Linked DNA regions of Homo sapiens. The protein of the gene in region 1 binds, or shares a complex with, the protein of each later gene. Each region holds a gene or a part of one and is shown in the gene's direction. Other genes may lie near its edges. The genes, in order: MCM3, CDC45, GINS4 and GINS2.

Region 1 (7,034 bases):
CCGGGGCTCAAGTGATCCTCCCAAGTAGTTGGGATTGCAGGCATGTGCTACGCCACCTGGCTTCACAATTCTTATTTTTTTTTTTAGAGACGGGATCTGTCTCTCTCAGGCTGGAGTGCAGTGGTGCCATTATAGAACACTGCAGCCTGAAACTCCTGGACTCAACGAATCTTCTCACCTTAGCCTCCTGAGTACCTGGGATTATAGGCATGCACCACCAGGTCCGCTAATTTTTTTTTTCACTTTTTTCTAGAGACAGGGTCTCGCTATGTTGCCCAGGCTGGACTGGAAGTCGTGGCCTCAAGTGATCCTCCTGCTTCCATCTTCCAAAGTATTGAGATTACAGACATGAACCACCATGCCCAGCCACAACTCTTATTATTTTTTTAAGAAAACACTTGTTCATTTTAGAAAATTAAGGAATAGTCAAAAGAAGAAGTCATCTACATAGATGTTTTAACAACGTTATAATTTTAGAATCTGCTTTTTAAAAAGTAGAAAAATAATGCTAGACTGTTATGTAATCTTTACAAATATTTTGTTGCGGGTTTGGGAGCAGGTTGGCATAGGAAAATGCTTTCTTCTTGGTGTTCAGATTGATCTGGATTGAGGACAATGCAAGGTTTTCCTCTGGAGACAAAAGATCATTTATATGGATTACTTGATGTCTGAACTGATTCTATCAAACAATTCCTCTCCTCCCCTCATCAAATTTTAATTGAGAACTACTGTATTCAAAGCACTATTAGGCGCTATGGAGGACAAGGATATAAATAAGACCCAGTCCTCGTCATTAGTCTTCACAGTGGTGGAGAAATGAAACATAAACAAAAACGAATGAATATCTTAGAATTATAACTTAAACATACTTTAGCATCATTTAGTCTACCTCCAGATGAAATGCTGAGATCAGAGAAGTTAAACAATTTGCTTACGGTCCCAGTTAGTGATGGCCTTAAGGACTAGGACCTGTGTCTCTTTAATTCATGCCAGTTGTATTTTCTAAGTCATTCTGTTGTCTTCTTCGGACCTTAAGATCTCCACTTTTTTAGAATTTCCTCTTCAGGAAGTACTTGGGAAGTACTCTTCTGTTGATTACTGTGGCCAAGCTTCTTTACTTGAAAAGTGAAATACATTGGACCAGATCTTCTGGAGGTTGTCTATGGTGATGCTTAAGAGCGTGGGCTTTGGAGTTAACACCTGTATCAAGTCAAGACTCTGCTACTTAACTGTGTGACCTGGGGGAACTTACTTAATCTCTCCTAGTCTCCTGGTTTCCTTGTGCATGACGTGTGAAAATACCTTCTTTACAAAGTTGTTGTGATAATTACATGAGATAATTTTGTGAAGTAATAGCACAGTGCCTGGCACATAGCAAACACTCAATAAGTGACAACTGTGTTTTTAGAAAATTCAAATGTGAAGGAAGTAAAACTTTAATATACGTACAGGAAAGCTCACATAAGTGTATAGCTTGATGAATTTTTACAAGCTGAGTACACCTGTGTAACCAGCTCCAAATGAGGAAATATTAGCACACAGAAGTCCCTCTTGAGGGCTCATGTTACCTAGGGGTAACCACTATCCTGATGTCTAACAGTATGGATTACTTTCAGCTGTTTTTTATTTAAATACTTATGGGCTTTTTATGCTCAACATTGTGTTTATGAGATTTATCCATGTTGTGTATAGGTGTGTTTCATACATTTTTATTGCTGTATAGTATTCATTTATGTGAATATACCGTGTTTAACCATTACACTATTGATGGCATTTTTACACTTTAAAATTTTTGACTACTAGGCATAATGTTGCTATGAGCATTACAATGCATGGCTTTGGGTGAATGTTTCTGTTGGGTATTACCTAGGAGTGGAAAAACTGCTTCAGAATGTAAGCATATATTCAGCTTTAGAGGGGAAGTAAGAATCTTAATTTAGATGTTAATATAACCATAGTCCATTCAGACTATGGGTTGCCCCTTCCATTCGATGGTTGTTACTAAAACAGACAGGAACACAAAAAGCTAGAGAAGGTACTTGGCTTTTTTTGTTACTGAATAATAAAATTTTATGAAGTCATCTTATTTGCCATGACAGGTGAGTGTGGCATTTTTAAGACAGGACGGAGATCACTCTGTCCCTCTGTGTGCCTTTTTCTAGGATGAGGAGAACAATCCCCTTGAGACAGAATATGGCCTTTCTGTCTACAAGGATCACCAGACCATCACCATCCAGGAGATGCCGGAGAAGGCCCCAGCCGGCCAGCTCCCCCGCTCTGTGGACGTCATTCTGGATGATGACTTGGTGGATAAAGCGAAGCCTGGTGACCGGGTTCAGGTGGTGGGAACCTACCGTTGCCTTCCTGGAAAGAAGGGAGGCTACACCTCTGGGACCTTCAGGTAAAGGGTCTGCCTTAAAGTATATGGAATGCTGTTGACAGCTTCCATTTCTGGTAATATCCTTTCTCCAGTTTGCCATATTCCAGAGAGTTATATCTGATAGGTGGAGCACTCTACCTGCCTGGGAGACAGGATACCTTCAATACCTCTTTTCTATCAGATAAAGCTGGTGATACTTAACCATCATATGCCAAAAATGAGAGTTATTGGTGACAATGATTACAGCCTCATGGCTTTCCTGGGAGTTTCTCATTTAATTACACTTCGTCCCCATACACAGTTCTGTCTGAAGTTCTGTGGGTCAATTCCAGAGGTGGGGCATGATCAGCATATTTGGATCACAGACAGAACCAGTTGTTTAATTCACAATAGCTACCTGCCCCCTCCCCACCAACTCTAATTGGCTGGTCTAGTTTGGCAGCCTAAAAAGGCTTACTCCTGCTAGGGGTACTAGCTACTGATGTTAGGAATTGAATATAACGGGTTTCCTCTTTATTCTGTTTGTCCCAGGACTGTCCTGATTGCCTGTAATGTTAAGCAGATGAGCAAGGATGCTCAGCCCTCTTTCTCTGCTGAGGATATAGCCAAGATCAAGAAGTTCAGTAAAACCCGATCCAAGGTCTGGGCATCCTTTAGAAATTTGAGGGTGGGAATGGATTTCTAAGAGTTGTGTTTTGGTGCATGGCTATTTTTGTACTAGATCAGAAGGAAGGGTTGAGGTTTGGTGTTAGCTTTTTCTATTTTTGTCTCAATCAACAAATGAAGGGTGTTTTTGCTGTTTGTTCTTTAGTAATTCTGTTGTTATTAAACAATTTTAATACCTGCTACCTGCTGGGCTGCTAAATGAGCCTAGTACAAATATTAGGATAGGTGTTAACTTGCCCGTGTACCAGTAAGTCTATTTATTACTGAAGGCGTTAGTGATGCATTACTACTTAAACATTTTTTCTTTGTTTTAGTTCTCCAACTTGTTTTTATCTTTTTAAGATAGGATGTATATCCACATTTAGAATTGAACTACATATATGAATGTGTGATGATAAAGGTTACTGTTCAAGCACAGTACATGTTCTTATTAAACCTAAAATGTTTTGAACCTGGGGATACTTTTTTCCCTTAAAGATTAAACCTCTAAACAAGTTTTGGAATCCAGGCTGCTCTGTGCCTACTCTGATAATGGCCTGATAGTGTAATTTGTCTTAGAAAATAATTTTTTGCAGTTAGGAACAATGTACCTGTTTGTGTGTTTCTTCAAGTATTTTCTTTTTTTTTTTTTTTTTTTTTTTTTTTGGTGAGACGGAATCTTGCTCTGTGACCGAGGCTGGAGTGCAATGGTGCGATCTCTGCTCACTGCAACCTCCGCCTCTTGGGTTTAAGTGATTCTCCTGCCTCAGCCTCCCAAGTAGCTGGGATTACAGGCGCACACCACCACGCCTGGCTAATTTTTTGTATTTTTAGTAGAGATGGGGTTTCACCATGTTGGCCAGGCTGGTCTCGAACTCCTGACCTCGTGATCTGCCTGCCTCGGCCTCCCAAAGTGCTAGGATTACAGACCTGAGCCACTGCGCCTGGCCCTCTTCAAGTATTTTCTATAGGCCAAAGTATATAAAGTGGAGCTCCACAAAGTCCCATTGAATCTCACTAGGCTTGCCATTGGTTATTTCTCCTGTAGGATATCTTTGACCAGCTGGCCAAGTCATTGGCCCCAAGTATCCATGGGCATGACTATGTCAAGAAAGCAATCCTCTGCTTGCTCTTGGGAGGGGTGGAACGAGACCTAGAAAATGGCAGCCACATCCGTGGGGACATCAATATTCTTCTAATAGGTACGATGTTGGGGATTTGCTTTAGACTGTTGTTCTGATGGAGTGGTTGTGGAGACCTATAATATGTAAGATTGTATATTCTGTACTTAGCAGTATTTCAGTCCTATCAAAGGACAAAAGGCTAAAATGAATCTTTTTTTTTTTTGTCATCTCTGGAATTCCTGATTTATAGTATATAAATATTCTTCCGTGAGTGGTGAAGGGAAAAGCGAAGGAAAAATATTAAAATCCACTTACTGTGTGACTCTGTTGTGTCAAGAGCTGTGCTAGAAAGGCAGAATTTGCTGGGGGTGCTGGGGAGTTTCCTAGAGAGTCATCACTGCCCCCACCCTACAGGAGACCCATCCGTTGCCAAGTCTCAGCTTCTGCGGTATGTGCTTTGCACTGCACCCCGAGCTATCCCCACCACTGGCCGGGGCTCCTCTGGAGTGGGTCTGACGGCTGCTGTCACCACAGACCAGGAAACAGGTAAGGGTGTAAGGGTCCTTGGCAAAGGCCCAGCAGAGAGCCTGAGCATAGATCCTTTGTGTGCCCTGGCTTGTGTTCTGAAGATACAGCTGATAGGTTAGTTGGGTCCAGATTATAGAGGACTGAGTATTCAGCAATGGTGGGTGAATTATTTAAGTCTTTGGTGTTCATCTATTTACAGGAATGTTTTCGATTTAAAGGATTAAGTCTTAGCACATTAGAAAGGAAATAAAAATGAAGATTGTACTATTTTATGAACTAGAGGAAGGGATTTGGAGACCAGTGAAGAGAAGGCAGAGGTCTAGTTGGGGTATTACTTGAGGTTGAGGCCGAAGAGAGAATCTATGAAGGAAATTTGTGAGAAGCTAGTTACTTAGGGGTCAAAGTGGGACAAAGAGATACTATTAATATTTAGATTAGAGCTGAAAAGGTGACCCACCAGGGTTTCCTCTAAGTTTCTCGGAGCCAACACACCATTGCCGCATTCTCACGTGCAAAGTGAGAGATTCCTAGGAAGGAGATTGAAATCCTTCCCTTCTGGCCCCTATAACCTAGACTGTAGCACGTATTTTTACCTTCTCACTTCCCAGGAGAGCGCCGTCTGGAAGCAGGGGCCATGGTCCTGGCTGACCGAGGCGTGGTTTGCATTGATGAATTTGACAAAATGTCTGACATGGATCGCACAGCCATCCATGAAGTGATGGAGCAGGGTCGAGTGACCATTGCCAAGGCTGGCATCCATGCTCGGCTGAATGCCCGCTGCAGTGTTTTGGCAGCTGCCAACCCTGTCTACGGCAGGGTAAGTGGAATCAGGCCCCAACCATTGTCCTCACCTTCATTTGGTTTTGCTGACTAACTGGGCTGAGAAGTGTATTCTAGGTGACCCAGGGGAATAATAGGCCAAAGACTAAAAGTAAGGCCATTTTCTTGTTATTGTCCTTTGTTTAGAGCAGTGTTCCTCACCCATTCCTGCACAGCAGAATCCCCTGGAAAGTTCCTTATTTAAAAGTAACTTTTTAACAGTACAGTTAAACAGTCCATTTAACATATTTAACCGTCCATTAAATAAAAGGACTACATGCATGTGGCGGGAGAATTTCTAAACAGAACAGGTATATAGTATGAAAACGAAAAGACTTGCTTCTCTCTCCTGTCACTTTGCCAAGAAATAACAGCTTTGAAGTGTTGCAGGAAACAAAACTTTAAGCATGTACCAGCAAATACACTATTTCCTTGTTAAGAATTATCTCTGTTTTTACCATGACTGTGATGTGCTAGATATAATCTTTTATATTTGTCTGTGCGTGGGGTTTGTTGAGTTTTTCCTTTTAAAAAAATAGATTTCTAGTATTCCGTCACAGGGATGTATTTAACTAGTCTCCATCTGATGGGTATTTAGTGGTTTCCATTTTTTCCTCCCTATTTTGAATGAAGCTGTAGTGGCCATCCCTTTATGTGTGTGGATAGATTTGGGAATATATCTGTAGTATAAATACCTAGCAAGGAAATTACTGGATTAAGAGTTATGTGCATTTTTCTTTTGGTAGAGATTGCAAAATTACCCTCTTTAAAGATTGTACCATATTAATACTTCTATTAATGAATGCTCATAAATGCTTTGTATTTACCAACTCCTTTTATCCTATCAGTAACTACCTCACAATGTGTAGTTATCTTTATTTTACAGATGAGAAAATGGAGGTACAAAAGATTATGTAACTTGCTCAAGAGCCACAAACTTGAAAATCGCAGAGCCAGGATTTGAGCCCAGAGCTCATGCTGTGTCCTGGCAGTTTATAATCAATCCCACAGTGTATGGGAACACCTTGTTGCGATGCGATGGTGTTTTTTATACATACAGTTGCATGGTCCCCCGTTCAGAGTTTCTGAATTAAAATCTCTTGAGTTGGAGCTCTTGGTAGCTATGGTTTAGAAGGGCTCCACAGGTTTGGTTTTAATGTGTAGCCAAGGTTGAAAACCATAGCTTTTAAAATTAATGATAGGGCTGGGCGCAGTGTCTCATGCCTGTAATCCTAGCACTTTGGGAGGCTGAGGTGGGAGGATCACTTGAGCCTAGGAGTTTGAGACCAACCTAGGCAATATAGTGAGACCTCATCTTTAAAAGTAAAATAAAATAAAATAAATGATAATGTATGTTTATGTCATTCTCAAGAGTGATTGGGAAATACAAGAAAAATGGCAGGACCTGAAACGTGAACATGGTCAAAATCATTATTACCTAAAGGTTGTTATGTTCTCTGACTGTGAAGTGTATGTGGATGGGTAAGTATCAGTCCAGTAGGCCCAGAATTGAAAGGAGAGTATTGGGGTTTTTGAAT
Region 2 (7,034 bases), on another chromosome or scaffold:
AAACCAGAAACTTGCTTTGCTGCGAGCAGTCTATGCACCAAAGGTTGACATTGCCCTGTCAACAGGCAGGGCACGGGTGGCAGCCCATATAGTTCAATGGAACCCAGTGGCCGCTTGGGCTTTGGGCTTGTCTCTGGGTCCTTCCCACTGAACAGCGAAGGCGCACCAAGCCGCAGGCAAGCAAATGCCCACAAGGGGCTCGAGGCTAGACTCACCATAATGTGTTATAGGACCAGCAGGTTTGTATGCCTGCTGTGCAGTAACAGACTTGTTACACTGAGACAGCAGAGTTTGCAGCAGAGGAAGAGTTTCATGATTGCAGGGCACCGAGTGAGAAGATGGGAGGAGATCCTCAAATCCATCTCCTTGAGGAGTTCTGGGCTGGGCTTTTTTGGTTTTGTTTGTTTGTTTGTTTTTGAGATGGAGTTTTGCTCTTGTTGCCCAGGCTGCAGTGCAATGGCGCTGTCTCGGCTCATCGCAACCTCCGCCTCCCAGATTCAAGTGATTCTCCTGCCTCACCCTCCCAAGTAGCTGGGATTACCAGTATGCAGCAACACGCCCGGCTAATTTTGTATTTGTAATAGAGACGGGGTTTCTTCATGTTGGTCAGGCTGGTCTCAAATTCCTGCCCTCAGGTGATCTGCCCACCTTGGCCTCCCAAAGTGCTGGGATTACAGGCATGAGCCACTGTGCCCGGCCTGGGCTGGGGCTTTTAAGGGGACTGGAGGGTGAGGGGCTGGAAAATTGGGAGAGTTGATTGGTGGGGCAAGGGGGATGTAATCATCAGGGTGTACAAACTGCACTCTTGGTTTAGTCAGCTCCTCGTGGGGTCCTTCGGAGCAGCTCAGTCAGTAGCTCCATCAGTATACAGGACCCAAAGGAATATCTCAAAGGGAAAACAGCATTTCCTAAGGTTCAAGTTGTGATCTACGGAGCAGTTAGGGGAACTACAATCTTGTGACAGGGTCTACATGCTTCTGAGGCAATGAGACACCAAGCAGCTACGAGGAAGCAGTCAGAGAGCACGCCGACCTAGTGACTGATGCTGATGTGCTGCGAGCTGGGTTCATTTTCATTTCTCCCCTCCCCCTGCCCTCATTAATTTTGTAAAGTTTATAGGGAACATTTCACCCACTCTGCTGTGGATCCCTGTCACTTACGGAGTCTGTCATCTTGGCTGTATGGGCTGTGGCCTCTGCGGTGCCCATTCTCAGGAGGTGTGAGACCCATGAGGACCGGAGGTGGACAAGGCTAGAGACCACACCCCCCCGCTCCATCCAATCATGTTTTCCTGGGTGCTTGGTTTCTATGCAGGCTGCATGTCCTTAGTCCCTGCATGGGAACAGCTCCTGTGGTGAGCAGGCCCCTGAGGAAGGCCTTGAGCGGGAATGGAGCCTAGGCTTAGGCTGCCTGGTAAGAGCTGGAGGGAACCAGCCGAGGCTTGTGCTACTTTTTTTTCCAGAATGAAATACGTGACTGATGTTGGTGTCCTGCAGCGCCACGTTTCCCGCCACAACCACCGGAACGAGGATGAGGAGAACACACTCTCCGTGGACTGCACACGGATCTCCTTTGAGTATGAGTATCCTTGTGGCCCAGCCTGAGGGGCACAGGCAGCACCCCTGCTCAGCAGGCCTTGTTTGCTTTGTCACCCTCTGTGGGTTCTGGCCACATCCCCAGGAGGGAAAGCAGGTGGGGCAGGAAGTTTTGGGGGAAGGGGCTGTGGTGTGCTACCCCAGCTCATCTGTGTGGCTTTGGCTTCTAAATGCCAGAGCTGAGTTTGGAAGTATCACCCTTCTCCAGCACATCCCTGTAAAGTGCTTATTGTGGGCCTGGCTCTGGACATGGTAGCAGTGCGGGCAGTGGTTCACGCAGTCAGGAAAGAAGGCAGCTGCCATGTAATCACACAGCGTGACGTGTCTTTTGAGAAGCACATGGGACATTGGTGGAGTGCTCAGAAAAGACCATGGGGAGACCACATCTCACACAGTCTCAGCCACACTCAGTGTGGCAGCTGCTGTACTGAGCACAGGAGGGGCTGGGGGACTGGCTGGGGTCAGGTGTCAGGAGGCCAGAGCAAGCCTTGTGAGCCAAGGGCAGCGGGAGGCTGTGGAGTGACCAGAGTTTGAGTCAGGGTTTTTAAAAGGTCCCTTGGCTGCCCAGTAGAGGTAGGTTGGGGGCAAGGAGATGGTCACTGCTTTCCAAGGCCACACAATAGTGGCTTGGCCCAAACTGCAGCAGTGGCTGTAAGCAGTCAGATAGCATGATGTCAGGGACGGAGCTGCCCTGTCTCTGCACTGTGATGGCTGGGAAGGAGGAAGAGTGAGGGTGGACACGTCAGTAGTCAGGTGGCCATCGGAGCCTGGGGAGCGGGGTGGAGCTGGCTGAACTCCTGGGGAGGGGAGCCGCTGTGCACTGGAGCTGGTCCCATCATGTGCGTGGCAGGGTGGGCTCACTTACCCAGGGACCATGGGAGTGTGTGACTGAGACAGGAGGGAGGGAGTCAGGGAGCTGAGGATGCTGGGGCTTGAGGAAGCTGCTGGAGTGTGGGCAGGGAGCATGGTGGTCTGAAGGCCTGGGAGTTCCCAGGAGTTGGGAGGGGCAGTGGTGGGAACTGAGCATGCCGAGGAAGCAGGCAGGACCAGGCTCTCGTCCTGTAGAGGGGAAATCCACCGTGGGGGACAGTCCACACTCACAACTGCGCTCACGGTGCCAGGGGCAGTGATGGATATGTTTAAGAAAAGGGCTGAGGAGGTCGGGCGCTGTGGCTCACGCCTGTAATCCCAGCACTCTGGGAGGCCAAGGCAAGTGGATCATGAGGTCAGGAGATCGAGACCATCCTGGCTAACACGGTGAAACCTCGTTTCTACGAAAAATACAAAAAATCAGCCAGGCATGGTGGCGGGTGCCTATAGTCCCAGCTATTCGGGAGGCTGAGGCAGGAGAATGGCGTGAATCCAGAAGGTGGAGCTTGCAGCGAGCCGAGATCGTGCCACTGCACTCCAGCCTGGGCGACAGAGCGAGACTCCGTCTCAAAAAAAAAAAACGAAAAAAGGGCTGAGGATGGGGGCGCTTCGTGGATGGGGTCCCAGTGGAGGGCTCTCCGGAGGAATGGGTTGTAGGGAGGGCTGGGCTAGGTGGAGCAGGAGGTGCAGGACGACAAGCTGGTGACGCCCAGCCTCCTACGTCATGTGTGGCCATGACTGCTCCATGTGACCACAGCACCTGGACTTTGCAGACCCCTGTGCTCCAGATTCTCTGCCTGTCAGACGGATGGTGGTCTATGCCTGTCACTTCACAGGCTCTCTGTATGGGTCAGCTTAAGCTAAGAAGGTCAAAGGGCTCCAGGTCACTCTTGGGATACCTGGTTTTGCAGGCAGGCCTGGTGAGAAAGGGCCCCGCCATCAGAGTGGCCCACCTGCTGGAGTTACGAGAGTGCTCAGGGCGGCCAGTGGGTGCTTGCATGCTCCTTGACTGCAGGCCCAGCCTCCGCCTGGTGCTCTACCAGCACTGGTCCCTCCATGACAGCCTGTGCAACACCAGCTATACCGCAGCCAGGTTCAAGCTGTGGTCTGTGCATGGACAGAAGCGGCTCCAGGAGTTCCTTGCAGACATGGGGTGAGTGACTGCCTGGGCCTCTGCAGTGCCAGCCCTGGCCACCCCCAAGGGAAAAGCCCCTCTGCTTTGTTGTGACCAACTTAGTTATAAAATGCAGCCTGTTCTGCCATAAGCTCCTTGCCCTAGATCCCAGAATATCTTCTGAATGCTGGTGCGGGGACATCCTCGCTTGCCCTTGGTTTGGGTTTCTTTCCACCCTGTCGGTGTGTGGTGACCTCACTCATGTGGCTTGGGCTTGCTCTTTCCAGTCTTCCCCTGAAGCAGGTGAAGCAGAAGTTCCAGGCCATGGACATCTCCTTGAAGGAGAATTTGCGGGAAATGATTGAAGAGTCTGCAAATAAATTTGGGTAAACACACATTTTTCTGGATTTATCTTCATTACATCCAGGTTCATTAAAGTGAAGGGTTCTACTTTAACTGTGCTCCTAAAATAATGCAAAAAAAACCAACGTGCTCCTAAAATAATGCAAAAAAAACAACAACCCGAGAATGTACAAATGAGTGTTATCTGAGTCTGGCCATTCCTGAAGTCTTGAGTTCTTTTTGGGTTAAAAATAAGACTTCTTCAAGCTTGTGAGGTTTAGGATCCTAGGATCCTTGGATCCTAGGGCTGCTGTGGGACCTGTGAGGTCGACCCCAGTCTGTTTCACTGGAGACAGCAAATGGGCCACAGGGCCAGGTTCAGGTGAACTCTGCCCGACCAAGTCCATGGGCACTCCTGGAGGCCCCTGGCTTCTCCCACCCCAGCCAGCTGGCATGCTAAGGTGTGAGAGAGGACCCCACACACCCCCTAAGCCAGCCATAAAGCTGTTGACAAGAAGGCACCCGGCCACTCTGGGCTGCAGGGCTGGTATGTCTGGACGTTCTGACCTGCCTCATCCTCTGAGCAGCATGGCTGTGCTGGAAGCATTGACTTGGGCCTGTGAGGGACATTAGCACATCTGTTGGCCTGCCTGGCAGTGAGAGCTTGCCCACAATTTGAGGGTGACAGCTGTGTTTGCTCCCATGACAGGATGAAGGACATGCGCGTGCAGACTTTCAGCATTCATTTTGGGTTCAAGCACAAGTTTCTGGCCAGCGACGTGGTCTTTGCCACCATGTCTTTGATGGAGAGCCCCGAGAAGGATGGCTCAGGGACAGATCACTTCATCCAGGCTCTGGACAGCCTCTCCAGGTAGCAGGAGGGCTGTGGGTTTGCCTCATGGGGCCACCACTGGTTCTCACACTGCCCAGGGAGGTCAGTTACGGGGACCCCAGGGCTGTGGGAGTGACTGTGTCCTGCAGAAACTGCTTGGGTGAACTGGAATCACAGTGCCAGTGTGGTGTGCACCTGACACATTACCTGCCCCTCTTCAGTATTTGTCACTTTCTCTTGAATCTTTTTTGGCTTTTTTTTCTTTTTGATTTTTAAAATTTTCTCTTTTTTTACCTTTTGTATCTCTTAACAAAAGGCATTATTTGTTATGTATATTCGTTCTTGTGTTTAATCTTATAGTTGTCATTTCTCAATTTTTTAATTTTCCAATTCTTTCTTATCTCACTTCCTGAGATGTCCTATATTTTTCCATGTCTTTTCGCTTGTTTTGAAATGGAATGTGACAATTTGGATCTTTTTTTTAGCATGTCTGTCTAGTGTCAGACTAAAGACATCAGAGAAAAATATCTCCAAATACACTGAATTTATTTGGGAATTAGAAAAGAGGATTATAGTGTCTGCGATGCACAGCTATGGCAAGCCAAATATGCATCCAAAGAGAGGAGGCTAAGGGGACACTTTTATTGGCAAAAGGAGAAGTTCACGAAAGCTAGCTTGGAAACAATTCATTGGTTTCAGAGACTCAGAGCCAGAGTTGGCGTCAGTTCAGTGGTGAAGATGCATTACTGGGCAAGTGTTATATTTTAAGAGCATCTTATCTGAATTGTTGCAGTCCTAAAGAAGGGATTTCTTGTGGGGTTATTTAGAAAGTCTTTGAGTCTTTATTCCAGACATGCAAGCAGGAGCTCTCCTTGGTGCTTTCCCAGCTTTAATTTGTTTGGGCCTGTCAAAAAGTGATTTCATCCTGGGATCTGCAACTTTCACATTAGTGTACTTTCATTATCCAGAGAGGTGTTATTCTGTCCCTTATTCTCTTTTTTTCTAATAGTGACTTTGAGGGGATTTGACTTTGCTACTTCTCTCATGCTTTTTATGTATAAATTTCATTTCCCTGACTTTTTAGGAGGAGGAGGCATGATTCAGACAGCTTTTCTGGCTTCACAGAGCTGCCACTTCTGTTGCTTTTGTGCAGTGGTAAAGATGCATATGTATATATGGGGGCCTGCTTTCTGGGATTTCCTGGTTCTGCTCCCAAGCACACTTTTTTTTCCACTGCTTTATTGAGATACAATTTGCATGCCATACAATTCACCCATTTAAAATGTACAATGTGATGGCTTTTATTTATTTTATTGTTATTTTTTTAGAGACAGGGTCTCGCTCTGTTGCCCAGGGTGGAATGCAATGGCATGATCATAGCTCACAGCAGCCTTGACCTCCCAGTCTCAAGCAATCTTCCTACCTCAGCCTCTTGAGTAGCTGGGACAACAGGTGCATGCCACCACGCCTTGCTAATTTTAAAAATTTTTGTAAAGATGTATCACTATGTGGCCCAGACTGGTCTCAAATTCCTAGGCTCAAGCAATCCTTTCACCTCAGCCTCCCAAAGTGCTGGGAGGAACAGGCATGAGCCACTGTGCCCAGCCTGCAATGACTTTTAGTAGGTTGCAGTTAGGTTTTGCAAGGTTGTGCAGCAATCACCACTATCTAATTTTAGAGCATTTTTGTTGCCCCAGAGAGATCCTCCCAGCCTCTGGCAACCACCAGTCTCCCTTTTGTCTTTATGAATTGGCTGTTCTGAGCATTTCATACAAATGGGATCATATAAGATATGGTTCTTTGTGACCGGGTTCTTCACTTAGCATCATATTTGCAAGGCTCATCTATATTGTAGGATGTATCGGGATTATATGTCTTTTCCCTCGTCCGCCACCTGAGACAGAGTCTCACTCTCGCTCAGGCTGTAGTCCAGTGGCACGCTCTCGGCTCACTGCAACCTTCGCCTCCTGGGTTCAAGCAATTCTCCTGCCTCAGCCTACCGAGTAGCTGGGATTACAAACGCATGCCACCAAGCCTGGCTAATTTTTGTAGTTTTAATAGAGACGGGGTTTCACCGTGTTGTTCAGGCTGGTCTTGAACTCCTGACCTCTTGATCCACCTGCCTCGGCCTCCCAAAGTGCTGGGATTACAGGCATCAGCCACCATGCCCGGCCAGTGTCTTTTTATTATAAATAATATTCCATTGGATGGATATATTCTATTTCATTTATCCATTCATAAGTTGATGGGCATGTGGTTTGTTTCCACCTATTGACAATTA
Region 3 (6,304 bases), on another chromosome or scaffold:
ACCCGAGAGTTGGAGGTTGCAGTGAGCTGAGATCACACCACTGCATTCCAGCCTGGACAACACAATGAGACTCCATCTCAAAAAAAAAAAAAAAAAAAAAAAACCTTATGTGATTATTAATTGGACTGTGGCAAGGGTCTTTCACAAAAGACTTCCCTACAGTTTGACATCTACCCATTGAGTCAGCATTCTTTTTTCAGCCACTTAGGAGTCTCCCAATCCAAGCCGTCCCCTAGCCCCAGGTCCATAGCTTGCCTGCAAGGGTGTCTCAGAGACGTTGTCCTGTGTCTTATGGTGTGTCTCTCCACCCACCCTATCCCACCTCCAGGCCACATGTCCTTCCTCGGGAGGGTTGTGTAAACCCTCTTTATGTTAACCACATCCTTCTCTTTGACTTTTGCCAATGTTTTCATGAAGATTTTGCTTTATCCTCACAGATAGAGAAGTTTTTCCCTCATGTCCTTGAGAAGGAAAAAACACGTCCTGAGGGGGAGCCTTCCAGCCTCTCGCCGGAAGAGTTGGCCTTTGCCAGAGAGTGAGTGAGTGAGCCGTTGGCGTGGGGCACCTGGCTGGTTCAGCATGAGGCCTGTCCTAGAGGCCTGTGCGCTGCTGCCTGCTAACCTTGGACGTCCATCAGCTGTGTACACCACAGCGATTTGAATCCATGTCTTTCAGGTTCATGGCGAACACAGAGTCCTATCTGAAAAATGTCGCCTTGAAGCACATGCCCCCTAACTTACAGAAGGTGGACCTCTTTCGGGCAGGTAAACAGGACGTTCTCCCTGCAGGTGGCCCACCCATCCTCAGGTGTCCCAGGGTAGGATCCTCTCTTCACTGTTTTTACCCAAATACAAAAAAGTAAGTATGTAGATAAACAGAAAGAAGAGCAAGGATTCTAGCTAAAAACCAAAAAAATCACGGAAAGCAGATCCAATGGTAGGCATTTGAGCATTGCTTCCTTGTTCCCTGGGGTGGGCTGAGCCCCATGACTGCACTGGTGCTTGTAGACTCGGGCATGGAGCCGCGTTCGCCTTCAGTAGCCATCTGCTGAGCCTCTGTGAGGTGCTGGCAGCCCCGAGTACCAGCACTGCAGAGCCTACACCAACATTGCCCCTGCTTAGAGGGGCTGGCCATCTCTTCGTCACAGGTCCCAGAATGCACAGGGCTCGCCTAGCTGGAGGGGAGGGCTGAAACAGGAGGCTAGGGAGACCTCCAGTGAGTCCCTGTGGCCTCAGAAGAGGGAGCAGGTTGGAGGGTGTGGAGAGAGGAGGGAGGGGAGCCGGGGAAGGGGAGCTTGGCCGGAGCCCCTCCTCGGGCTTCTTCGCACCAGCCCCTGAGGGCTGCCGAGCAAGGAAAGGGAGGTATAGGCAGAGCCCTTACCGTCGGATCAACCCACCGGGGGCCCTGGCTTACAGGATAAAGCCCATGTTCCTCAGTGTTTCACAGTGCGCCAGATCCAAGCAAGACCTCCTCAGGCAAAATTGCCATACCAAATCAAACGAGCTCCAGTACACCCGAGCCCTGGAAATTCATCTCTGCCCAGCCTGTGCTGGGGCTGGGGACCACACAGCCACCCCTGCGGTGGTGGAACAGGGTCTTAGTCCCTTTGGGCTGCTCACAGTTATGGAGACTGGGAAGTCCAGGATCCAGGCCCCCACAGACTCAGTGTCTGCCAAGAGCCTGTTCCTCATAGATGGCGCCTTCCATATGTCCTCACAGAGAAGGGAAGGGGCAAGCAGACTCTCAGGCTACTTTTATAAGATCACTAATCCTAGTCTCTGTGTGTCCTAGTCCCCTCCCTCCCCCCCACCTTTTGATTTTTGTTTTTTGTTTGCTTTTTATTTTTTGAGACAAGGTCTTGCTCAGTTGCCCCAGCTGGAGTAGATTGACGCTGTCATAGCTCACTGCAGCCTTGAACTCCTGGGCTCAAGCGATCCTCCCACCTCAGCTTCCCAAGTAGCTGGAACTACAGGCATGTGCCACCATGCTTGGCTATTATTTTTAAAATTTTTTTGTGGAGACAGAATCTTGCCATGTTGCGTAGGCTGGTGTCAAACTCCTGGCCTCAATTGATCCTCCAGCCTCAGCCTCTCAAAATGCTGAGATCACAGGCATAAGCCACTGTGCCTGGCCTATTCTCTTCTTATAAGACACCAGTCAGATTGGATTAGGGCCCACACTACTTGGCCTCGCTTTCACTTAATTGCCTCTTTAAAAGCCCTGTTTCCGAATACAATCCCACGCTGAAATACTGGGGGTTAGGGCTTCAGCGTATGAATTGTGCAGGGACACAGTGTAGCCCATAACACCAGGAGCAAGTCAGACCCATACCAGACTTGTGGAACCCTGAATTGGTCATTTTGCTGAGGCTGCCTGAGGAAAACAAAAGGCCCAATGCGTGTCCGGTTTCCTCCCTGGTCAGCCACTCTGTCTGCATCTTTGAAGAGTAGGAATGGGCTGGGCTCCTATCTAAACCCTGAGTGTGCCATACCATTCTTCCCAGCAACTTTTACTTTGTTGACTTTGTTGGCCGAGGATTTCCTAATCACATTGTTGTTTTCCTGGCAGTTCCCAAACCAGATCTAGATTCTTACGTGTTTCTGAGAGTGAGAGAACGACAAGAAAACATACTGGTAGAACCAGACACAGATGAGCAGAGGTGAGTGGCGTGCATCTTTCACAGTGGGCACATTCCTCCCGATGGAGGGCCAGCCGAGCTCTGCAGGCAAATGTGTTTCCCTCTTTTTCAGGGACTACGTGATTGACCTGGAGAAGGGCTCACAGCACTTGATCCGATACAAAACCATTGCACCTCTGGTTGCATCTGGAGCTGTCCAGCTAATTTAAAACTAGGCATAAACAGCCAGGCATGGTGACTCAAGCCTGTAATCCCAGCACTTTGGGAGGCCGAGGCGGGCGGATCATGAGGTCAGGAGTTCGAGACCAACCGACCAACATGGTGAAACCCCATCTTTACTAAAAATACAAAATAATTAGCCGGGTGTTGGTGGTGTGCACCTGTAATCCCAGCTACTCAGGAGGCCGGGGCAGGAGAATCGCTTGAACCTGGGAGCAGGAGGTTGCAGTGAGCCGAGGTCGTGCCATTGCACTCCAGCCTGGGTGACAGTGAGACTTTGTCTCAAAAAAAAAAACAAAAAACAAAAAAAAAACAAACTAGGCATAAACTCATGAGGTCAGGAGATCAAGACCATCCTGGCTACTAAACCCCATCTCTACTAAACCCATCTCTACTAAAAATACAAAAAATTAGCCAGGCATGGTGGCGGGCCCATCTACTCAGGAGGCTGAGGCAGGAGAATGGTGTGAACCCGGGAGGTGGAGCTTGCAGTGAGCCAAGATCGTGCCATTGCACTCTAGCCTGGGCGACAGAGCGAGACTCCATTTCCAAAAAAAACACACTAGGCGTAAACAAGAATGAAGACCTGGAACCGTAGAGAAAATACTAGAAACCCCTCGTATCACGTTGTGCCTGAGGACAATAATAAAGTAGTTTACTAGGCATCAGACATTCCTCAGCAGTGCTGTGGGTCACGGGCGTGAAGCGGAGCTCGAGGCAGGATTGCTTGTGTTGCTGCATGTCCTGTCTGCTGTTTTAGCCCGTGTCAGTAGATGGGGCCATTGTACTGTTTGTTCTGCACACTTGGCGGAGCAGCAGAGGCTCTCAGCACGCCTTTTCCCTTTGTAGTATTTTCTGAGCTAAGGAAAGTCAGGCAGAAGTAGTTCATAAGAAGGCATCACTGCCTGTGATCGGGGCTGCATTTAGCCCTGACCTGATAATGGTAGGAGAGTTCATTTAGCCTTTCTGCTGCGAAGATTGTAAATAGATTAAAGAAAACAGCTGTGGCCTTCTCCCGTCATACATCATTAGACTGTGTAAACTAACATTTTAGAACCTCTAATATTGGACTTAAAACCAATTTCTGTCGTGCTTAATTGAAAATCACAACTAAACCAATAAACCATTATTAAATTTCCATTCTGCAGCAGAAGGCACCTCTGGACGGCTCCCGGCTTGTAGTTTAATGAAGTATGTGCTCCCTGCTGTTAACCCGCAGCCCTCCCCAACTCTCCAGCAGCTTTGCCAAGTCAGCCTCCGGGCCATCTGGCTGTCCTTGGCCAAGGCACTGTTAACGGAGTGACGTTAACCATCTTGTATTGTGACCTGTGGCCGCTTTTCTGGTTTAAGTCCTTCACTTTTTCAAGAGGAATGGATGAAATTAATGTGCATGCAGAGTCTCACAGTGATGCCGGAAGGAAGGATGTATAGGCAGTGAATGAATGATCTTTCCTTGAAATGCTATAAAAAGCAACCTGCATTCCAGTCTTTTCTTCCTGGTTGAAGTTGGCAGATTTCCATTTGCAGGGTATGGGCTGCGAGAGTAATCAGGGTAACATTGCTGTCATTTCCAAGAGAAATCAGTAGGGGAAAGCAAGGGAGGTCTTTTTTTTTTTTCTTTTTTGAGACGGAGTTTCCCTCTTGTTACCCAGGCTGGAGTGGCAGTGGTGTGAACACGGCTCACTGCAGCCTCCACCTCCTGGGTTCAAGAGATTCTCCTGCCCCAGCCTCCCGAGTAGCTGGTATTATAGGTGCACACCACCACACCCAACTAATTTTTTGTATTTTTAGTAGAGATGGGGTTTCATGATGTTGGCCAAGCTGGTCTCGAGCTCCTGACCCCAGGTGATCCACCCACCTCGGCCTCCCAAAGTGCTGGAATTATAGGCGTGAGCCACTGCGCACGGCCTGGGGAGGTTTTATTTCTTGACAAAGGTATTTGATACTCGTGCAGTCCCTGGAGGGTCTCACTGGAGAGACAACATTTAGGCTGAGATCTGATTAACAGGAGGCAGCTGCAGTGCAGAGGTCAAAAGGGAGGGTGTTCCAGGCAGAGAAAACAGCCTGTGCAAAGGCCCTGAGGCAGAAACAAACTCTACTTGAGGTCAGCCTGGTTAGAAAGCCCAACTCAAAATAGAAAGTATTACATGATAAGGTCTGAGGCAGGCTGGACCCAGATCTTACAGGACCTTGTTAATAAGGATCCCATTTGGTCCCCCACAGTCCTGAGAAGCGGGCAGGGCTGTGGGAAACAGCAGATATTTAGTGGTAAGCCTGAGATCAGAACCCAAGTCTGCACTTCCTAGTCACGTTCTCCCTGTAGTGCTAAGCCCAGAGACCTGAGCTGTTAACCTAGAACAGTGTGCTTCCTAAGCCTTAATGTGCATACCCATCGCCTGGAGCTCGCCTTAAGATGTAGGTTCTGCCTGAAGCCCAAGTTCATTTAGTATGTCATGGTTAATTCAGAGTAAAATCAAGAGTTAGTACTTGATTTATGCTTGTTATATAAAGAAAGAGACAACTTCACTGTATGATCATTTTGTCACTTTTCAAAAGCATTTAATTCCCATTCAATTGAAAATGTTTCAAGAACAAACCTGTTTGGTCATTTTATTGATATTGCACATTTGTATATGAATAAATTTTTGCAAATTAAAAAAAAAAAAGATGTAGGTTCTGAAACAGGGTGAGGTCCAGGATCCTGCCTTTCTAAGGAGCTCCCATGTTGTGCAGTTGCTGCTGGCCCGGGGACCACATTGAATGACGGCTCTACGTCCTCATGCCTCCAGCTGCTGCCCTGTACATGTCCAACTGCACGGAGCACTTTACATCCTCTAAAACCACAGTAAATTGCTCCATTTCCTAAATTACCTCTTCAAGAGAAGACTGGTTTTGATGTCATTTTTAAATAAAGGAGAAGTTGAATTTCAAAACCAAGTGGAACAGGAAATGATGTGACTTGGTTGACATTGATTTTAACATTTGGTTCATGGTGAGTGTTTTGCTTTATTGTTAAAAACTCGCCACTAAAAGCATGACAGAACATTTTATCAAATGATGGCGTCATCCTTTACCGTAAGTTTGCCCCTAGCAAGACAGCTCTTCCTGAGACGTGCTTGCAGGCCGCTATGTGGGTTTTCCCACCGCAGTCATCATCCGTCATCTGTGACCTTGCTGCATTTACTCCATGCTCACACCCCAGCAGCCCGCCTGGCTTTGGCATCGCCCTCAGAGGCATCAAACTTCCCCTGCTGCAATGTACAAGAGTTAGCCAGGAAGCTTGCAGAGTGCTTTGGTTTTGTTTTGTTTTTTTGACATGTCGCCCTGGCTGGAGTACAGTGGTACAATCTCAGCTCACTGCAACCTCCGCCTCCTGGGTTCAAGCGATTCTCCTGCCTCAGCCTCCCAAGTAGCTGGGATTACAGGTGCACACCATGACACCCAGCT
Region 4 (7,492 bases), on another chromosome or scaffold:
CGGGCACGATGGCTCATGACTGTAGTCCCAGCACTTTCGGAGGCCCAGGTGAGAGGATCACTTGAGCCCAGGAATTTGAGGCCAGTCTAGGCAACATAGTGAAACCTCATCTCTACTAAAAAAAAAAAAAAATTGGCCAGGCATGGTGGTGCAGAATTGTAGTCCCAGCTACTCAGGAGGCTGAAGCAGGAGGATCACTTGAGCCTGGGAGGTCAAGACTACAGTGGGCCGTGATCATGCCACTGCACTCCAGCCCTCCAGACTGGGCAACAGTGAGATCCTGTCTCAAAAAAAAAAAAAGAAAAAAAGAAAAAAGACGGGAGATGTATTGCAAATCATGGTTACTACAGTTAATAGTCATGTATTGTCTATTCAAAATAGCTAAAAGAGTATATTTTAAATATTCTTACTACAGAAAAATAAAAATAAGGATTTAAGTTGATGGATACGTTAATTCACCTGATTTGACCGTTCCACAATGTATACCTGTGTCAAAACATCACTGTACCCAGTAAATACATGTAAGTATTGTAAATTAAAATAAAACATAAAATGCAAAACAAAATACTTCTGTGTGCATCCCCTGGCACCTGCATTAAGCTAAACTTGAGTTCATACTGACGTCTCCAACCGTAATTCATCTCCAGATGAATCATTCCAGCTTTCTAGGGGAGGCGTTTTACAGAACAGAAAATGATGCTGGAAGGTCCAGCACCCCCACCTCCACCACTGCCCTCTTCCCCTCCCCTTTGGTTTCCTTCTGTCTGTTGACTCTGGTTCCCCCACCCTGAGGCCAGGTGGGAGGATTGGCCTTCACCTGGGTGCTGGGAGTGGCTCAGAGCTGGACCAGATTGGGGCAAATCACTTCACCGGTATTCTCAATCATAAAAACCTCTTGGGAGCTTCTTGAGTGTGCTGTATACCTGGGCCTACCCCATACTTGTCAATCAGAAAGTCTGAGCCTGGGGCTTAGAGAGGGGCATTTTTCAAAACAGCTTTATAGGTTGGGCGTGGTGGTTCATGCCTCTAATCCCAGCACTTTGGGAGGCCAAGGTGGGTGGATTGCTGGAGCCCAAGGGTTGTTTGAGACCAGCCTGGGCAACATGGCAAAAACCTGTCTCTACCAAAAACAAAAAATACAAAAATTAGCTGGGTGGGGTGGCACACCTGTAGTCCCAGCTACTTGGGAGGATGAGGTGGGAGGATCATTTGAGCCTAGGAGGCAGAGGCTGCAGTGAGCTGAGATTATACCACTGCATTCTAGTCTGGGTGACAGACCCTGTCTCAAAAATTAACAAACAAACAAACAAATAAAATGGCTTTATTGAGGCATAATTCACATACTGTAAAATTCCCCCTTTTAAAGTGTACAATTCAGTGGTTTTTAGTATATTTACAGATTTGTGCAATCATCACCGCTATCTAATTCCAGAATATTTCTGTCACCCCAGAAAGAAACCTTGTACCCCCTAACTCCTCATTCCCCCTCCTCCAGTCCCTGGCAACCACTAATTCACTTTCTGTTTCTATGGATCTACCTATTTTGGACATTTCATGGAAATGGAACCATATAATATGTGGACTTTTGTGTCTGGCTTATTTCACTTAGCATAACTTTTTTTTTGTTTGAGACTGAGTCTCGCTCTGTCATCCAAGCTGGAGTACAGTGGTGCAATCATGGTTCACTGCAGCCTCCACCTCCCGGGCTGAAGCAATCCTTTCACCTCAGCCTCCTTAGTAGCTGGGACTACAGGTGTGTGTCTGTGTCACTGTGCTGGGCTAATTTTTTTTTTTTTTTTTTTTTTTTTTGAGACAGAGTCTTGCTCTGTCACCCAGGCTGGAGTGCAGTGGCACAATCTCGGCTCACTGAAACCTCTACCTCCCAGGTTCAGGTGATTCTCCTGCCTCAGCCTCCCGAGTAGCTAGGACTACAGGTGTGTGCCACCACACCTGGCTAATTTTTGCATTTTTAGTAGAGGCAGGGTTTCACCATATTGGCCAGGCTGGTCTTGAACTCCTGACCTCGTGATCCTCCCGCCTCGGCCTTCCAAAGTGCTGGGATTACAAGCGTGAGCCACCGTGCCACCCCCCACTCCTTTTTTGTTTTTTTAATGTAGAGATGGTCTCTCACTATGTTGCCTAGGCTGGTTTCGAACTCCTGGGCTCAAGTGATCCTCCCACCTCAGCCTCCCAAAGTGCTGGGATTACTGGTGTGAGCCGCCACTGGCATCACGGTTTTGAGGTTCATCCACGTTGTAGTGTGTACCAGGACTTCATTATGATTTGTAGCCAAATACTACTCCATCGTATGAATAGGCACCATTTTGTTTGTCCAGACGTCAGTTGGTGGCCACTGGGCTGTTTCCACATTTTGACTATTATGAATCGTGCTGCCATGAAGGGGAAGACACAAGCCTACCAAGTGATTCTCACACACTCAGGCTTGAGGCATCAGGACACCACCCTTCTGCAATCTGTAAAGCTGCACACTTTCCCATCCTGTTCTTTCCAAAGCCCAGTGAGGCTAACAGCAGCCCTGTCCCCATTTTACAGATAAGGATGCCGAGGCTCTGTGATGTGGACAGCCAGGCTCTGGTAGCCCTCCTACCCATCCCTCAGCAGCCTCTCTGAACCTCAGCTTTCTCATCTTTTCCTTTGCTCTTTTATAGGCTGGACAAATCAGGACGCAAACCCTCGTCAGCTTTGGAACACAAATATTTGCCAGTGAAGAAAACATTCCCTCATCAGTCAAAACCCGGACAGTCTGGCACACACGTCTGCAGCTGCCTGAGGGAGCTTCTACTGTGGGAGGGGCCAGATGGCCCACAGCTCCCCCTCCTCCCTGAACACTGCAGGCTCCTTCTCTTCCTACTTCATTTTGAAGATAAAGAGACAGGGGTTCAGAGTTGTCACTTGCCCTTGGTCACATAGCATCCAGAGTGACCTTTGATTTCTTCTCTTCGAGCATATCTGTCTTTTCTCTTTTGTTTTTATTTTTTTTTAATAGAGATGGGGTCTTGGCATGTTGCCTAGGCTGATCTCAAACTCCTGGCCTCAAGTGATCCTTCTGCCTCGGCCTCCCAAAGTGCTGGGATTACAGGCGTGCCTGGCCAAGAGTATGTGTCTTCACACATGAAAGTAACTCAGCGAAAACTCCAGATCTGTAAATAACAACTTCTAAGGCAGATACACAACAGACACAGCTTTGTGAGCAGGCCTGTGAGCTTTACGGCTTTTTTTCACCTTCCCAGTGACCCTCTATGGGGCTTCAGGGAGGTTGGAGAGGAGAGCATCCGGTTAGCTGGGGCGGGGGCAGGGGGTGCTTTCTGCTGGAATTCCAAACCCTGGAATCCTCATGTCTCCTGTGATTTTTCTCGCGGGCCTAATTATCAAGGTTTCAAATTCGACTGCAGTCCTAGAATAGCGCTTCACCCCCAGGAAGCTTTTCCGGCCATGACCACCCCATCAAAATCACCTGGCCCTGGATGAAATTCAGCTTTCTGTCCTTTCCACGACTCCGGAATCCCAACTCCCAGGAGCGTGCACACAGACAATGGGCACCCGCTAGGGGATTCTGACACAGGTGAGCTCCAGCCACCGCTCTGGCTTCACCTGCGCCCACTGTACAGGGGCAGCCGGTCCAGCGAGCAGGTGAGTATTTGCTCAGGTGGTGCAAACCTGCCGCTCCTGTCTCATGTGGGGCTCCTGCCGAAGTGCAAATTCTGAGCTCCTGCTCTGAAGTGTCCGAATTGGAAGCTGTGGGGTGGGATGGAGGAATCTGCATTTTTACAGCTGTTTTAAACAATGTGTGCAGAGAGGGCAGAAGATTGTGAAATTAATGGAAACAAGGTCTTCCCTCATCCCTCTATCTGTCAGCCCGGGTGATGCCTAGTCCCGGGCCCGGTGCTGAGTTTGGGCCAATAAATGCTTGTACTCTTGGCCTGGCACGATGGCTCCCACCTGTAATCCCAGCACTTTGGGAAGTCGAGATGGGAGGATCGCTGGAGACCGGAAGTTCAAGACCAGCCTGAGCAACACAGCAAGATCCCAAATCCACGAAAAGTTGTTTAAAAATTAAAATAAAATAAATGCGTTTACTCTTGGCCCCATGCGGAACGCCGGCGTAGAAGCGGCCCGGAACCCCACCCCCGGCTCTTGATTAGGGCCGTTTGCGGCGGGCGCCGGGGACAGGTGAAGGGACACCAAAGCTGGCGCCCGCGGCAGGAGATCCTGACAGCGCCAGGTGCACGCCCACGGGCGGGGCGGGGCCGGGGTGGGGGCGGGGCCTGTCCGCGGGCCGGGGCGGGGCCGGCGCGCAGCCTCCCTCGGCCTTGCCAATCCGCGGGCTCTTCGCGAGCGCGGTCTCCGCCCCCCCGCCCGCAGACAGCGCCTATAGGCTGTCTACCGCCTTCCTATAGGCTGGCGCAGGCCGTCTTCCGGCCGGGGCGGGCTCTCGCCGTGGCGGGAAAACGGCGGCCGCGGCGTCTCCTCCGGGACGCTGAGGGGCCCGAGGAGACCGTGAGGCTCTGGCCTGCAGCTCGCGCCGCCATGGACGCTGCCGAGGTCGAATTCCTCGCCGAGAAGGAGCTGGTTACCATTATCCCCAACTTCAGTCTGGACAAGATCTACCTCATCGGGGTGAGGCCTGGGCCCGCCGTGGGGAGGGGAGGCCGGGCTGGGCGCGTCCGGGGCTCCCGCGTGGCCTTCAGCCCCGGGGTCGCGGGCTCGCCCTGCTCCCGCATCTGCGGAGGCCACCACTCGGCGCTTGACTCGCTCACCGCCGTTCCCGCTTCTCGGATGAGGAAAGCGAGACTGCGCTCTTTGCCAGTGCCCCGAACGCCCGGGTTTACAGGGTTTTTTTGATCTGTTTGGGGGCTTTTTTGGTTTGTTTTTTGGTTTTTGAGGTGGAGTGTCACTCTGTCGCCCAGGCTGGAGTGCAGTGGTGCCGTCTCGGCTCACTGCAGCCTCCGCCTCCCGGGTTCAAGCGATTCTCCTGCCTCAGCCTCCTGAGTAGCTGCTGTTACAGGTGCCCGCCACCACGCCCGGCGCATTTTTGTATTTTTGGTAGAGATGTGGTTTCACCGTGTTGGCCAGGCTGGTCTCGAACTCCTGACCTCATGAGCCACTCGCCTCGGCCTCCCAAAGTGCTGGGATGACAGGCGGGAGCCACTGCGCCCGGCTTATTTATTTGGTAGAGATGCGGCTGGCCTCGAACTCCTGGGCTCCCCAGGCGATCCTCCCACGTCGGCCTCCCAAAGGGCTGGGATTATGGGCAAAAGTCGGCTTTGCCTCTGTTTGTTTTTGTCTTTATCTTTGAGATGGAGTTTCGCTCTATCGCCCGGGCGGGAATGCAGTGGCGCGATCTCGGCTCACTGCGGCCTCCGCCTCCCGGGTTCAGGTGATTCTCCTGCCTCAGCCTCCCGAGTAGCTGGATTGTGAGCCCCCGCGCCCGCCCGGCTTTGCGTTTTCAGTATGAGGGAGGCGCCTCGGCGCTGGGAGTCCTGGAGAAGGAGGGCAGGCTCTGTACCTGCCCAGACCCACCTCCCCGCACCCCAGGACCCCAACATTGGGTGTGTGAAACCTGTTCCGGAGTTGGAGGGTGCAGGCGGGAGAGGGAGCGCCCCCCACCCACTCAGGGGAGACTTGCATCCTGTCCGCGGAAAGGCCAGAAGGACTGAGCCCCACGCTCGCAGGTGTCTCGGAGCCGCTCAGGAGGCGCTTTGTTCTGAGTCTGGTAACAGTTGGGTTTTTATTATTTGCATTTGGACTTCAGCCTCTGCAATGCCTTGCCTCTTATTTGATAGCAGTAACGCACAGTAATGCTTTTTTTGTTCTTTTTCAATCTTACGGGGAATTGTTTTACTTTTGGCAGGGGGACCTGGGGCCTTTTAACCCTGGTTTACCCGTGGAAGTGCCCCTGTGGCTGGCGATTAACCTGAAACAAAGACAGAAATGTCGCCTGCTCCCTCCAGAGTGGATGGATGTAGGTAAGGATGTGGTGGAGACTGGTTGATGCGTGGGTGGGGCTGGGCTTGGGGTGACGCCCTCTCCCACGGGGTGGAGGCATGGGGCCTCCTTCCTGACTAGGTCCGTGCTCCCTCTGTTCCGTTATCTACTGATCAGCTGAAAGGAATACTTCCAGATTCACCTCTCAGCAGAGTCTGCTAACCACTGTTAGTAATGTCATGTTAGGTTTTGGTGTGTGTGAAAGTTGTAGTTTGTTTTTTGAGACGGGTCTGACTCCATCACCCAGGCTGGAGAGCAGTGGTGCAATCTCGGCTCAATGCAGCCTTCACCTCCTGGGTTCAAGTGATCCTCCTGCCTCAGCCTCCCAAGTAGCTGGGACCACTGGCGTGCGCCACCACACCCTGCAAATTTTTGCGTTTTTGTAGAGATGGGGTCTTGCCATGCTGCCCAGGCTGGTCTCAAACTCCTGGGGTCAAGCGATCTGGCCACCTTGGCAGATCTGCTGGGATTATAGGCGTGAGCCACTGTGCCCAGCCTATATTTTAATGTAAGATATTTCAATTTGCTTTAAAATAAATATATGACCTTAAATAAGCATTTGTTTTAAAATTTTAAAAATAAGTATAGATTAGCATGTTGAGAAGCAGTTATAGAGAATGCATGAAAATAATATATCACAATAAGGTTGAATATTATTCAGCTATAAAAAGGAATGGAATTCTGATACATGCTACTGCGTGGATGAACCTGAAACATCTTAAAGATCTTGCTGAATGAAAGAAACCAGGCACAAAAGGCCGCACACTGTATCATTCCATTTCTATCAACTGTCTAGAATAGGCAAATCAATAGAGACAATGTAGATTAGTAGTTGCTTAAGTATGGGGGTCTTGCTTTGGGTGATGGAGGGATTGTGGAGTTTCTTTTTGGCATGATGAAAATTGGGATTGATGGAGGTAATGGTTGCCCAAGTCTGAATATACTAAACACCATTGACTTGTACACTTTGTTTTTAATAGCCCACAAGTGCTACTAAAACTTGTATACTTTTTTTTTTTTTTTGAGACAGAGTCTCGCTCTGTCGCCCAGGCTGGAGTGCAGTGGTGCGATCTCGGCTCACTGCAAGCTCCACCTCCTGGGTTCACACCATTCTCCCGCGTCAGCCTCCCAAGTAGCTGGGACTACAGGCGCCCGCTACCACGCTCGGCTAATTTTGTTTTTGTATTTTTAGTAGAGACTGGGTTTCACCGTGTTAGCCAGGTTGGTCTCAATCTCCTGACCTCGTGATCCACCCACCTCAAAACTTGTATACTTTAAATGGCTGAATTGTATGATATATTAATTATGCTTCAATAAAGCTGCTAGAAAAAACTGAAACAAATCAAAGATGCAGACAGGCTTTATTCTGAGCCTTTGAAATCTTTTTCTTCTCTTGGAGATATGAGTAGCTTATTATAGGGAAAAAAAATCTTAATTTTTTTGTGTGTGTTGGTGAGGAGAGGGGTATGGTCATACATATAGAATT

Evidence for each region.
Region 2: MCM3 (region 1) and CDC45 share a complex: the UniProt entries of both Homo sapiens proteins name them as parts of the CMG helicase complex.
Region 3: MCM3 (region 1) and GINS4 share a complex: the UniProt entries of both Homo sapiens proteins name them as parts of the CMG helicase complex.
Region 4: MCM3 (region 1) and GINS2 share a complex: the UniProt entries of both Homo sapiens proteins name them as parts of the CMG helicase complex.

What each region holds. Positions count from the first base shown.
Region 1 is NC_000006.12:52,274,728-52,281,761, reverse strand, and holds part of MCM3 (DNA replication licensing factor MCM3), read left to right. Parts: intron 1-87; exon of another isoform or gene 88-209; coding exon of another isoform or gene 210-221; intron 222-2,162; coding exon 2,163-2,401; intron 2,402-2,911; coding exon 2,912-3,020; intron 3,021-4,073; coding exon 4,074-4,227; intron 4,228-4,563; coding exon 4,564-4,695; intron 4,696-5,285; coding exon 5,286-5,494; intron 5,495-7,034. UniProt on the Homo sapiens protein: Acts as a component of the MCM2-7 complex (MCM complex) which is the replicative helicase essential for 'once per cell cycle' DNA replication initiation and elongation in eukaryotic cells.
Region 2 is NC_000022.11:19,503,900-19,510,933, forward strand, and holds part of CDC45 (cell division control protein 45 homolog), read left to right. Parts: intron 1-1,462; coding exon 1,463-1,582; intron 1,583-3,486; coding exon 3,487-3,618; intron 3,619-3,866; coding exon 3,867-3,965; intron 3,966-4,630; coding exon 4,631-4,792; intron 4,793-7,034. UniProt on the Homo sapiens protein: Required for initiation of chromosomal DNA replication. Core component of CDC45-MCM-GINS (CMG) helicase, the molecular machine that unwinds template DNA during replication, and around which the replisome is built.
Region 3 is NC_000008.11:41,539,241-41,545,544, forward strand, and holds the end of GINS4 (DNA replication complex GINS protein SLD5), read left to right. Parts: intron 1-437; coding exon 438-535; intron 536-675; coding exon 676-764; intron 765-2,568; coding exon 2,569-2,659; intron 2,660-2,750; coding exon 2,751-2,847; 3' UTR 2,848-5,790; downstream 5,791-6,304. UniProt on the Homo sapiens protein: Required for correct functioning of the GINS complex, a complex that plays an essential role in the initiation of DNA replication, and progression of DNA replication forks.
Region 4 is NC_000016.10:85,685,955-85,693,446, reverse strand, and holds the start of GINS2 (DNA replication complex GINS protein PSF2), read left to right. Parts: upstream 1-4,492; 5' UTR 4,493-4,548; coding exon 4,549-4,638; intron 4,639-5,872; coding exon 5,873-5,987; intron 5,988-7,492. UniProt on the Homo sapiens protein: Required for correct functioning of the GINS complex, a complex that plays an essential role in the initiation of DNA replication, and progression of DNA replication forks.